Linked DNA regions of Homo sapiens: region 2 is linked to region 1. A link means that fine-mapping ties the variant in region 1 to the expression of a gene that starts in the linked region. Tissue or cell type: caudate. Region 1 holds a variant in brackets; the other region holds the start of a gene. All regions are shown on one strand. Distances are from middle to middle. Region 1 overlaps CA5A (carbonic anhydrase 5A). Region 2 holds the start of CA5A (carbonic anhydrase 5A).

The links. PIP is the estimated chance that this variant, and not a neighbour inherited with it, causes the effect. A credible set is the group of variants that fine-mapping cannot tell apart.
Region 2: it holds the start of CA5A, and the variant in region 1 is the best candidate, but not a certain one, in a credible set for the expression of CA5A in caudate (GTEx, PIP 0.78).

Annotation. Positions count from the first base shown.
Region 1 is chr16:87,897,116-87,902,484 of GRCh38, reverse strand. It overlaps CA5A (carbonic anhydrase 5A), which reads left to right. Exons shown (of 7, transcript NM_001739.2): 4 at 1-60; 5 at 511-573. Among named protein-coding and RNA genes, the nearest start is that of SLC7A5, 30 kb to the right of the region's middle. RefSeq lists an enhancer at 3,951-4,650. The variant A/G (reference allele first, on the strand shown) is at 2,321.
Region 2 is chr16:87,933,409-87,938,777 of GRCh38, reverse strand. CA5A (carbonic anhydrase 5A) reads left to right here and starts at 2,249. Exons shown (of 7, transcript NM_001739.2): 1 at 2,249-2,469. The coding sequence starts at 2,328.

The DNA of each region.
Region 1 (5,369 bases):
AATTACAAGGAAGCTGTCGTGGGAGAGAATGGTTTGGCTGTGATAGGCGTGTTTTTAAAGGTAATCACTTGCTCGGGTGTAGATCTAATGAAGAAAGTGGTGATCCATCATTAGGATTGCTTTTTTTTTTTTGAGACAGGACTCGCTGTGTCACACAGGCTGGAGTGCAGTGGCACAGTCTCGGCTCATTGCAACCTGCACCTCCTGGGTTCAAGTGATTCTCCTGCCTCAGCCTCCCCAGTAGCTGGGACTATAGGAGTGTGCCACCACACCCAGCTAATTTTTGTATTTTTAGTAGAGACAGGGTTTCACCATATTGGCCAGGCTGGTTTCGAACTCCTGACCTTAGATGATCCGCCCACCTCGGCCTCCCACAGTGCTAGGATCACAGGCATGAGCCACCGCACCTGGCCTAGGATTGCTTTTAAAACGTGGTGTATTTACAGTGGAGTGAGCTTCCCCCCCCATCCACTGCCTTTGCAGCTAACCCCTCCTTTGTCTGCCATGCAGCTCGGGGCCCATCATCAGACGCTGCAGAGGCTGGTGGACATCTTGCCGGAAATAAAACATAAGGTAAGCTGCATATTTGAAATCAGCAGGCCGGGCGCGGAGGCTCACGCCTGTAATCCCAGCACTTTGGGAGGCTGAGGCAGGTGGATCACGTGAGGTTGGGAGTTCGAGACCAGCCTGACCAACATGGAGAAACCCCGTCTCCACTAAAAATACAAAACTAGCTGGGTGCGGTGGCACATGCCTGCAATCCCAGCTACTCGGGAGGCTGAGGCAGGAGAATCGTTTGAACCCAGAGGTGGAGGTTGCAGTGAGCTGAGATCGTGTCATTGCACTCCAGCCTGGGTGACAAGAGTGAAATCCCATCTCAAAAAAAAAAAAAGAAAAGAAAAGAAAGAAATCAGTATAATCTGACAAGCAAAATTGTTTAGTGCAGCGATTCATTTGCAAGGAAAAAGAAATGGCGTAGTGGAAAGAGCCCCGCCAAGGGGCTGTGGTTCCAGTTCTGGAAATGGGATTCCGCAGGGTTGATGCTGGTGTGTCCACAGCTAGGTCTCTCTGACTTCGAATGCATCACCACTGCTCTGGGACCCTGTTTCCTCCTCCATAAAATAAGGGTGTTGAGCTCAACAGAAGTTCCCAAAATTCAGCCATGCAGGCGAGATCCTGAAGACGTTTGACATATCTGCCTGCCAATGGGACAACTTTCTACTGAATATTTTTCTTTTCTTTTCTTTTTTATTTTTTCGAGGAGTCTCCCTCTGTCACTCAGGCTGGAATGCAGTGGCGCGATCTTGGCTCACTGCAACCTCCGCCTCCCGGGTTCAAGCAATTCTCTTGCCTCAGCCTCCCATGCGGCTGGGACAATAGGTGTGCGCCACCATACCCAGCTAATTTTTGTATTTTTAGTAGAGACGGGGTTTCACCATGTTGGCCAGGCTGGCTGGTCTCAAACTGCTGACTTCAGGTGATCCGCCCGCCTTGGCGTCCCAAGGTGCTGGGATTACAGGCGTGAATCACCGCGCCCAGCCTAGTTAATATTTTTCTTTAAATTGATTAGCTCGAAAAATTTTTAGCCTTGTCCTGGGTGATGGTATTCACTAATGATAAAGTTTGTTTTAAAACAGATTGAAACAAAAACCTCAAATCCCTAACTAATAACATTTAAGAATGTTGACTCATGTACCACCCAGCACTCTCCTTGAACGTCCCTGTCCGACCCCAAGCCCAAGGGCGGAGAGAAACCTGCCCAAACCGCAGCTCTCCGCCCAGCGATCCATAGGCTTCCCTGTATCCAGCGCAGCTCGAAAAGATGGTGGGGACAACAGTGTCGCCTTTCTCCAAGATCAGCTGAGAAAAGGCTTTGAGGGAGAAGGAGAAATTCCAAAGAAATGTAGTTTATTTATTCAGCAGCATACAAAAGAATTCCAGGGCAGAAGGAGTCAACGCAAGCCTCACATGTGCGGACGGATGAGGCTTCAACCTGTGTTAACAATGGTGGAGGCTGGTCCAGATGGAGCTGGGACCAGCCCTTCCTCGCGGTTCAAGGAGACGTTTGATCTGTACGTGGCCTTCGCCTTGATGCTGGCTTCGGGGTGGCCTCCTGGGACTGGGACCAGATCACCCCCTGCCGCCCCATCTGCCTGCTCAGGAACTTCACAAGGCCACGGTTCTGAGAGCTCTGACGCCCCATCCTCTTCCTCCACGCGGCTCCACAGCCAGAGGAAACCTGGGCAGGGGTTGTTTTCCCAGCCAGCCTCCACCTCCCACACCAGGTGGTCCCACCTCTTGGTGGGAAAGAAAAGAGCTG[A/G]TTGTGAAGGACCCTTTACCCAAGGGCTGTTTTCCTCCCGGGGAAGGTTCTGGAGCATTTCTTCTCCATGGGGTAAGTCAGAATTTTCTAGGCAAACCACAGGGGAGGAATGATGCCCGGGACAGGGGAGGAAGTGCCACCGCGGACTGAGCTCTGGTCCTGATGCTGATCTCTGGGCTCATCCCCTCAGCTGAAAATAAAGAGTTAGACTCTTTTTTTTTTTTTTTTTTTTTTTTTTTTTTTTTGAGATAAAATCTCGCTCTGTTGCCCAGGCTGGAGTGCAATGGTGCGACCTCGGCTCACTGCAACCTCCGCCTTCCAGGTTCAAGTGATTCTCCTGCCTCAACCTCATGAGTAGCTGGAAGTACCGGCGCCCACCACCATGCCTGGCTAATTTTTGTATTTTTAGTAGAGACGGGATTTCACCATGTTGGCCAGGCTGGTGTCAAACTCCTGACCTCAAGTGATCTGCCCACCTTGGCCTCCCAAATTGCTGGGATTACCGGCGTGAACCACCGCACCTGGCCGAGTTAGACCTTTGAGAAATTAAAAGACCTTAAGAGGCTGGGTGCGGTGGCTCACGCCTGTAATCCTAGCACTTTGGGAGGCCAAGGCGGGCTTATCACTTGAGGTCAGGTGTTCAAAACCAGCCTGGCCAACATGATAAAACCTCATCTCTACTAAAAATACAAAAATTAGCCAGGCGTGGTGGCGGGTGCCTGTAATCCCAGCTACTCAGGAGGCTGAGGCAGGAGAATTGCTTGAATCTGGGCGGTGGAGGTTGCAGTGAGCTCAGATTGTGCCACTACACTCCAGGCCGAGTGACACAGCGAGACTCATCTCAAAAAAAAAAAAAAAAAAAAAAAAAAGACCTTAGGAGGTAAAAGGCCCAGCCTTGGGAGCAAGAGTCTGTGCTTCATGGGCCAGGGAATGGGAAGAGACTTGAACAACTCTCTCGCCTAGAGGCTCCTAGCCTAGGACTTCTGGGAGCTTCTCCCATAGCACAGTGTATCAGAGAGCCCCACAGTTGGACTCCTGGGTTCAGAGCCCAGATCCACCACTCCTGAGCTGCGCACCTCTGAGCCTCAGCTTCCTCGCCTGTGAAATGGAGATATTAAACATCCACAGTAGCCCAGGTATGGTGGCTCACACATGTAACCCCAGCACTTAGGGAGACTGAGGTGAATAGATCACCTGAGGTCAGGAGTTCAAGACCAGCCTGGCCAACATGGCAAAACCCCGTCTCTACTAAAAATACAAAAATTAGCTGGGTATCGTGGCACACTCCTGTAATCCCAGCTACTCAGGAGGCTGAGGCAGGAGAATCGCTTGAACCCAGGAGACGGAGGTTGCAGTGAGCCGAGATCGTGCCACTGCACTCCAGTCTGGGTGACAGCTCGAGAATCCGTCTCCAAAAAAAAAAAAAAAAAAAAAATCCACACTAGAGCAGCATTCTCACCATGTAATGGAATAAGGAGCATGTCTGGTTCTTGGTGAAATGTGCAGTTGAGTTTAAGGCCCAGCTGTGGCCAACACTCACACACTCAAGTCTGCTGTGGAAGGCACAGGCTGCTGCTGCCCGTCACGAAACGAAAATCCACCAGCCCAATCACTAAGGTTAAAATCGCTTTTTGTTGCTGCGGGTGCTTTCTGTCAGGTGATTCCCAGAGAGAGCTATTACCTTCTGGGAGCCCATGAAATTTTAGAATGATGGCCTTGTGATGGAAAATGCTAGAAGTGTGGTTGAATCTAATTCCTGATTGGTGGGCAGTGCAGGGCAGGACAGGGCCATGGTGGCCTCAGGCTCAAGGGCAGATGGCCTTGGCTTCAAATCCCAGCTCTGCCACTCCCCCGCGGACTCAGCAGTTCTCACCCAGGGACGGGCTCACCTGCAGCTTCTGGGCTGCTTTCCTGGTTTCCTCCAGTTAAGGAACAAGTTGTCCTGAATTAGGGCAGGAAAGACCAGAGTCACGTAGTCCCCATCATCTCTCCTGGTTCCAGGCTGGTCCGGGCCCTGCTGTGGGACTGACTCGGCAGAGACCCTCCAGGAATGCCTGCCACGGTCACTCCCTGGGGACCCAGCTGGCTTCTATGCAGTGCTCAGGGCTCCAAGGGTGCATTTCCAGAAAGAGCCAGATGGACACGATGTCCTTTTCTGCCCTGGCTTCCAGAGTCACAAAGCACTGCTCCTGCGGCATCCTGTTTACCACTCCCGTCAGGAGCACCTGCCCAGGCTCAGGGCAAGGGGACATCACCCTACACCTCGGCGGAAGGGGTTCAAAGAAGCGACAGCCCTCCACATAAATTATCACACTGAATCTTCCAATCACTCCACGGGGCAGGGCCTGTGATTCATCTGTCTTGCACACACAGGAAAACCAAAGCTCAGAGAGGCAGAGAAGGCCTTGCCCGAGCACACAGCTGGCAGGTGAAGAGCCCGTTTTTAAACCCAGGAAGTGGGTCCACGCAGCCTGAAGTCCCAGTCATCCTGGCGCCCACCTCCCGCATGCAGTCAGAACCCAGGCTGAGCTCCAGCCCCTGCTGCACATTTCTGAGCTTTTCAGCAGCTTAGAGGGAAACACAGGCAGTGTCTGTAACCAAAACCACATCAGGCGCTGCCTGGAAGCCTGGACCCCCACCCCCACCCCCAGCACCATCCCATCTGCACAGGCCCCTACCAGTGCCGACCTGTCACTATGCACTCAGCTCCCAGCACGCAGGCACAGCCCCAGTGTGGTCCTGGTGACCCCGGGCAGACAATTCCAGAATGGAGACCTCAAGGCTTCGCCTTTGACCCTCTCACCATAGCCAGAAGTTTTGGCAAAAACTGCCCACAGAGGGTCCCCACCCTCCATGCCTGGACAAGCCGCAAGCTCCTCAGGCTGCTGGGGTCCCCCCTCCTCCCTGCCTTCGCAACAGTCAGAGCTACCGGGGAATTGGCTGCCTTGTGGAGGTGGAAACAGCCCACCAGGTCCAGGGGATCCAGGGAACGGCTCTGTGCCCTGTGGGGGCTCTTCTAGCTTTGGCAGCAGCAGCGGCAGCACCTACT
Region 2 (5,369 bases), 36 kb before region 1:
GAGTGAATGAATGAATGAATGAGTGAATGAATGATTGACTGAGTGAGAGAATGAATGAGTGAGTGAATGAATGAGTGAGTGAGTGAATGAGTGAGTGAGTCAATGAGTGAGTGAGTGAGTCAATGAATGAGTGAGTGGGTCAATGAATGAATGACAATGAATCAGACTTCCCAAGAGTGGGTGCATTTCCACCATGACTGTGTGGGAAGGAGAGAACATATCATCCAGACTTGGTTTTTGTTGCTCAAAACAAATGCAAGCAAACTCTTGGGCCCACCAGAGCAGTGGCCGAAAGCCGCAGACCCTATCCATTGTGTGGGGGATTTCAGTGGGATTCTTGGGCTTTCAGGAGCCTACAAGTGGACTCGCATTTCAACACCTGTGTTCTGTAGGGTTTTCTAGATCTAAGATTCCAGGATTCTATGAAAAGTTATGATAGCCCTGCCCCCTAAAAGATTGTAAGTTTAAACAACAACAAGAAGTCACAAACTGGTGCATCCCAATCCCATGGGTTCCATTTCACAGGTAAAAGGTGTCTGGGTGAATAAACTGCTGTGCCGCTCAAAGGACCCAAAGGAAGGTTCTTTGTGGGTTGGCGTCTGCAAATATCACCAGCTGCCTGGCTAGAGTGACCAGCTAACATACCCATGTGGACCCTGGGCATGAAGGGAGGTACCAGGCCAGGGGCAGTGGCTCATGCCTGTAATCCGAGCACTTTGGGAGGCCACTCTGGGAGGATTGCTTGAGCCCAGGAGTTCAAGACCAGCCTGGGCAACATGGCGAGAACCTGCCTCTACAAATAATTTTTAAAATTAGCTGGACATAATGGCATGCACCTATAGTCCCAGCTACTTGGGAGGCTGAGGAGGGAGGATCACTTGAGCCTGGGTGATTGAGACTGCAGTGAGCCATGATGGCACCACCGCACTCCACCTTGGGTGACAGAGCAAGACCTCACCTCAAAAAAAAAAAAAAAAAGAAAGAAAGAAAGAAAGAAAGAAAGAAAGAAAAGAAAAGAGGCTGGACGCAGTGGCTCATGCCTGTAATCCTAGCACTTTAGGAGGCCGAGGTGGGTGGATTGCCTGAGCTCAGGAGTTCGAGACCAGCTTGGGGAACACAGTGAAACCCCGTCTCTACTAAAAATACAAAAAATTGGCCGTTGTGGTGGTGTGTGCCTATAATCCCAGCTACTCAGGAGGCTGAGACAGGAGAATTGCTTAAACCTGGGAGGCAAAGGTTGCAGTGAGGCAGGATCACGCCATTGCACTCCAGCCTGGGCAACAGAGCGAGACTCCATCTCAAAAAAAGAAAGAAAGAAAAGAAAAGAAACGAAGAAAAGAGGCTGGGCGTAGTGGCTCACACTTGTAATCCCAGCACTTTGGGAGGCCGAGGCAGGCAGATCACCTGAGGTCAGGAGTTCAACACCAGCCTGGCCAACGTGGTGAAACCCCATCTCTACTAAAAATACAAAAAATTAGCTGGGCATGGTGGTGGGCGCCTGTAATCCCAGCTACTCAGGAGGCTGAGGCAGGAGAATTGCTTGAACCTGGGAGGCAGAGGTAGCAGTGAGCCGAGATCACGCCATTGCACTCTAGCCTGGGCAACAGAAGTGAAACTCTGTCTAAAAAAAAAAAGAAAAGGAAAGAAAGAAAGGTGGCCCTGTTAATGTTTATGCCAAGACAGCAGGCATGACCTGGAAGTGTCCGAAGCCACAGGGCATCTTGCTTCCGGGGAGGATGAATGAATCAAATCGCACCTATTTTAAGGCAAGCAAGGACTCCATGACTTCAGGAGCCCTGGTGGGTGGACAGAAGCTCCCTGCTCCCCTGGCCTGTCTACCCAGCAGCGCTTTGGCCAGTCCCATTCCTGTACTTCTGAGCCTGCCTGCCAGTCCCTCCTCACATGCACACCATGGCTTTGTGCCTGGTATTGAGTGTCCCGGAGCCCCAAACCACACGGTCAACCCCATGAAAGAAACAGGGACTCTGCTCTCATCCACTCGCCCCCGCCTCCCGCGTAATCCCCTGGTGCTCACGCAGCCCCACCGTACAGTTTTTCTAGCTCCCTGGCAGACTTGTGCTCCTGTTTGCCAGATCAAAGCCCAGTGACCTGAGTGGCCTGTCCCCAGCAGAGGCCACTAATCCCTGTGGACCCACCCTGTTGGGAAAGGCATGGGTTGAACTTTAACCATTAGGCTCAGGGGTTGGGATGAGTTTCTACAAAAAGAGGTGGGTACACGCCAGTCCACAGTGGTCCTGATCAAAGTGAGAACAGACAGCAGGGAACATCACCCTCTTCAGACTGGAGTCAGTGGGAACAGACCCAAGATGTTGGGGAGGAACACTTGGAAGACCTCAGCTTTCTCCTTCTTGGTTGAGCAGATGTGGGCCCCTCTCTGGAGTCGTTCGATGAGGCCAGGGCGATGGTGTTCTCAGCGTTCCTGTGCATGGCAAACCAGCAATAACACTTGTAAGTAGAGCCTCAAATTTCCTAAGATGCGACTGGATCCTTGTCTTAGCTGATGGGGTCTTTCGAGAGGAGAGAGGAGAGACCGTCCCGAGCCAGATGGGTTCAGATTTCCACTCCGTTTTTTTTTTTTTTTTTTTAAGATGGCGTCTCGCTCTGTGGCCCAGGCTGGAGTACAGTGGCGTGATCTCAGCTCACCACAACCTCCACTTCCCGGGTTCAAGCGATTCTCCTGCCTCAGCTTCCTGAGTAGCTGGGACTATAGGTGCATGCCACCACTCCTGGCTAATTTTTCGTATTTTTAGTAGAGACAGGGTTTCACTGTGTTAGCCAGGTTGGTCTCGAACTCCTAACCTCGCGATCCGCCTGTCTCAGCCTCCCAAAGTGCTGGGATTGCAGGCATCAGCCACGGCGCCCGGCCCTCTTTTTTCTTTTTTTGATGAAGTTTTGCTCTTTTGCCCAGGCTAGAGTGCAATGGCATGATCTCGGCTCACTGCAACCTCTGCCCTCCAGGTTCAAGTGATTCTCCTGCCTCAGCCTCCAAAGTAACTGGGACTACAGGCACCCGCCACTGCACCCAGCTAATTTTTTGTATTTTGGTAGAGATGGGGTTTCACCATGTTGGCCAGGCTGGTCTCGAACTCCTGACCTCAGGTGATCCACCCACCTTGGCCTCCCAAAGTGCTAGGATTACAGGCGTGAGCCACCGCGCCTGGCCACACTCCGTTTCTCTTGTATTTGGTGACCTTGGGTGAATCATTTAGCCTCCGTTTCAGGGGTCCTGGGGAGGGCAAGATGCTGGGAGCAGGCGGGTAGTCCGTGTTCGCACGGGACACACTGGCACGACTCACCATCCAGACCCGGCGGAATGGGCTGCACTAACCAGTCACGATCGCTCCTAAACTCTTCGGCAGAGAACGCTTTCAAGCAAACCTGTAACAAATAAACCACTCAGCCAGCTCTGCCAAGAAACTGCCCCGTGCCAGCCCCTCCTGGCTTCATGGTCAGTGCCTTGTGACCTTGAACGAGGCCCTTCCTCTTTCTGGGTCTCAGGTGCTTCCTCCGTAGAATGAGAGCCTGCTTTGGCAGCTGCCAAGTTCTCTTCTAACTGAAATCTTCCATGCATTCCATGTTTGGGCCATTGAAAGAGCATGGGCTTAGGAGCCAGACCCCAGGCATGCAGTCCGACTGACGCTTGCTGAGGTGGAGCCTCGGCAGGTCTTCACCCCCAAGCCTCTGTGTCCTTATCTCGAGATGGGGGTGGCCAGACTTTCTCTCCAGGGCCATGGAAGGATGACACGATGCGTGTAGAAAGCCTGGCCCACCCCAGACTCTGAGTGAGCTACACTCATTCCTCCTGTTGGGGTCCACACCTGTGGACTGGAGTGCAGTGGTGCGATCTCGGCTCACTGCAGCCTCTGCCTCCTGGGTTCAAGCGATCCTCTTGACTCAGCCTCCCAAGTAGCTGGGACTACAGGCGTGTGCCACCACGCCCAACTAATTTCTGTATTTTTAGTAGAGATAGGATTTCGCCATGTTGGCCAGGCTGGTCTCAAACTCCCGACCTCAGGTGGTCTACCTGCCTCGGCCTCCTAAAGTGCTGGGATTACAGGCGTGAGCCACTGCACCCACCCCCCTTTTTTATTCTTAGTACGACCGTCAAGAGCGCTAGCCTGCCTAGATTGGAATCTTGGCCCCACTGCTCTATGGCTGTTGCCCCTCTGTGACTTTCCTTTATTTTTTGAGACTAATTTCTGTCTTGTTGCCCAGGCTGGAGCGCAGTGGTGCGATCTCCAGCTCACCGCAACCCCCACCTCCCAGGTTCAAGCAATTCTCCTGCCTCAGCCTCCCGAGTAGCTGGAATTACAGGCATGCGCCACCACATCCGGCTAATTTTGTATTTTTAGTAGATACAGGGATTCTCCATGTTGCTCAGGGTGGTCTTGAACTCCCAGCCTCAGGTGATCTGCCCGCCTCAGCCTCCCAAAGTGCTGGGATTGCAGGCGTGAGCCACCACGCCCAGCTGTCCCCTCTGTGACTTTCTTAACTTCCCCCAGCCTTGGTTTTGTCGTCTGTAACAGGGGGTTGATAATGGTGCTTACGGCACAGTGTCGTTGGGAGAAGGGTCCGAGGTGGGGCCTGCAAAGGCTGGGGACAGCACATGGCTCCAGGAAGCCCTTGCTAGACGCCAGCTGCTGCTGTTGCTAACACAGGCAGCGGTGGGTGCCCTGTGTCTATTTAAGCATTTCCCTGTCAGTGGGCAGCAGGTAGCATTCCATTTCTTACTGTGGCAACATGTCCTCTTACATCGTGTGCTAGAGAGAGTCATATTCTGTATCGGCACCTAAATCCATTTACACCATGGTCCTCAACCTGTTCCCAGTGAACAGAGGGCTCTGCCAAATCATTTCAGAGTTCCACAAAGAGCAGAATATTCTGCCAAGCAGAGAAGATTGGAACATCATAAGGAATTCATCCTTCTATGTCGGTGTTTTATTTATGGGCATTCTGAAGATTATTTCACTTGGAAAAAGAATATTGTTACTAAAAATTATTGAAAAATCACTGGTGGTTTGGCCTTGAGAGAAAAGTCAAAGAGTTACAAAACGCTCAGTGATAATTTTAGAACCAGGCATGGGGGCTCACACCTGTAATCCCAGCACTGTTTTGGGAGGCTGATGTGGGAGGACAGCTCAAGCACAGGAGTTCAAGATCAGCCTGGGCAACATAGCAAGAACCCATCTCTAAAAAAAAAAAAAAATTAAAAAATTAACTGGACATGGTGGCACACACCTATCATCCCAGCTACTTGGGAGGCTGAGGCAGGAGGATCACTGACCCCAGGAATTTCAGGCTGCAGTGAGCCCTGATCAGGCCACTGCACTCCAGCCTGGGCTACACAG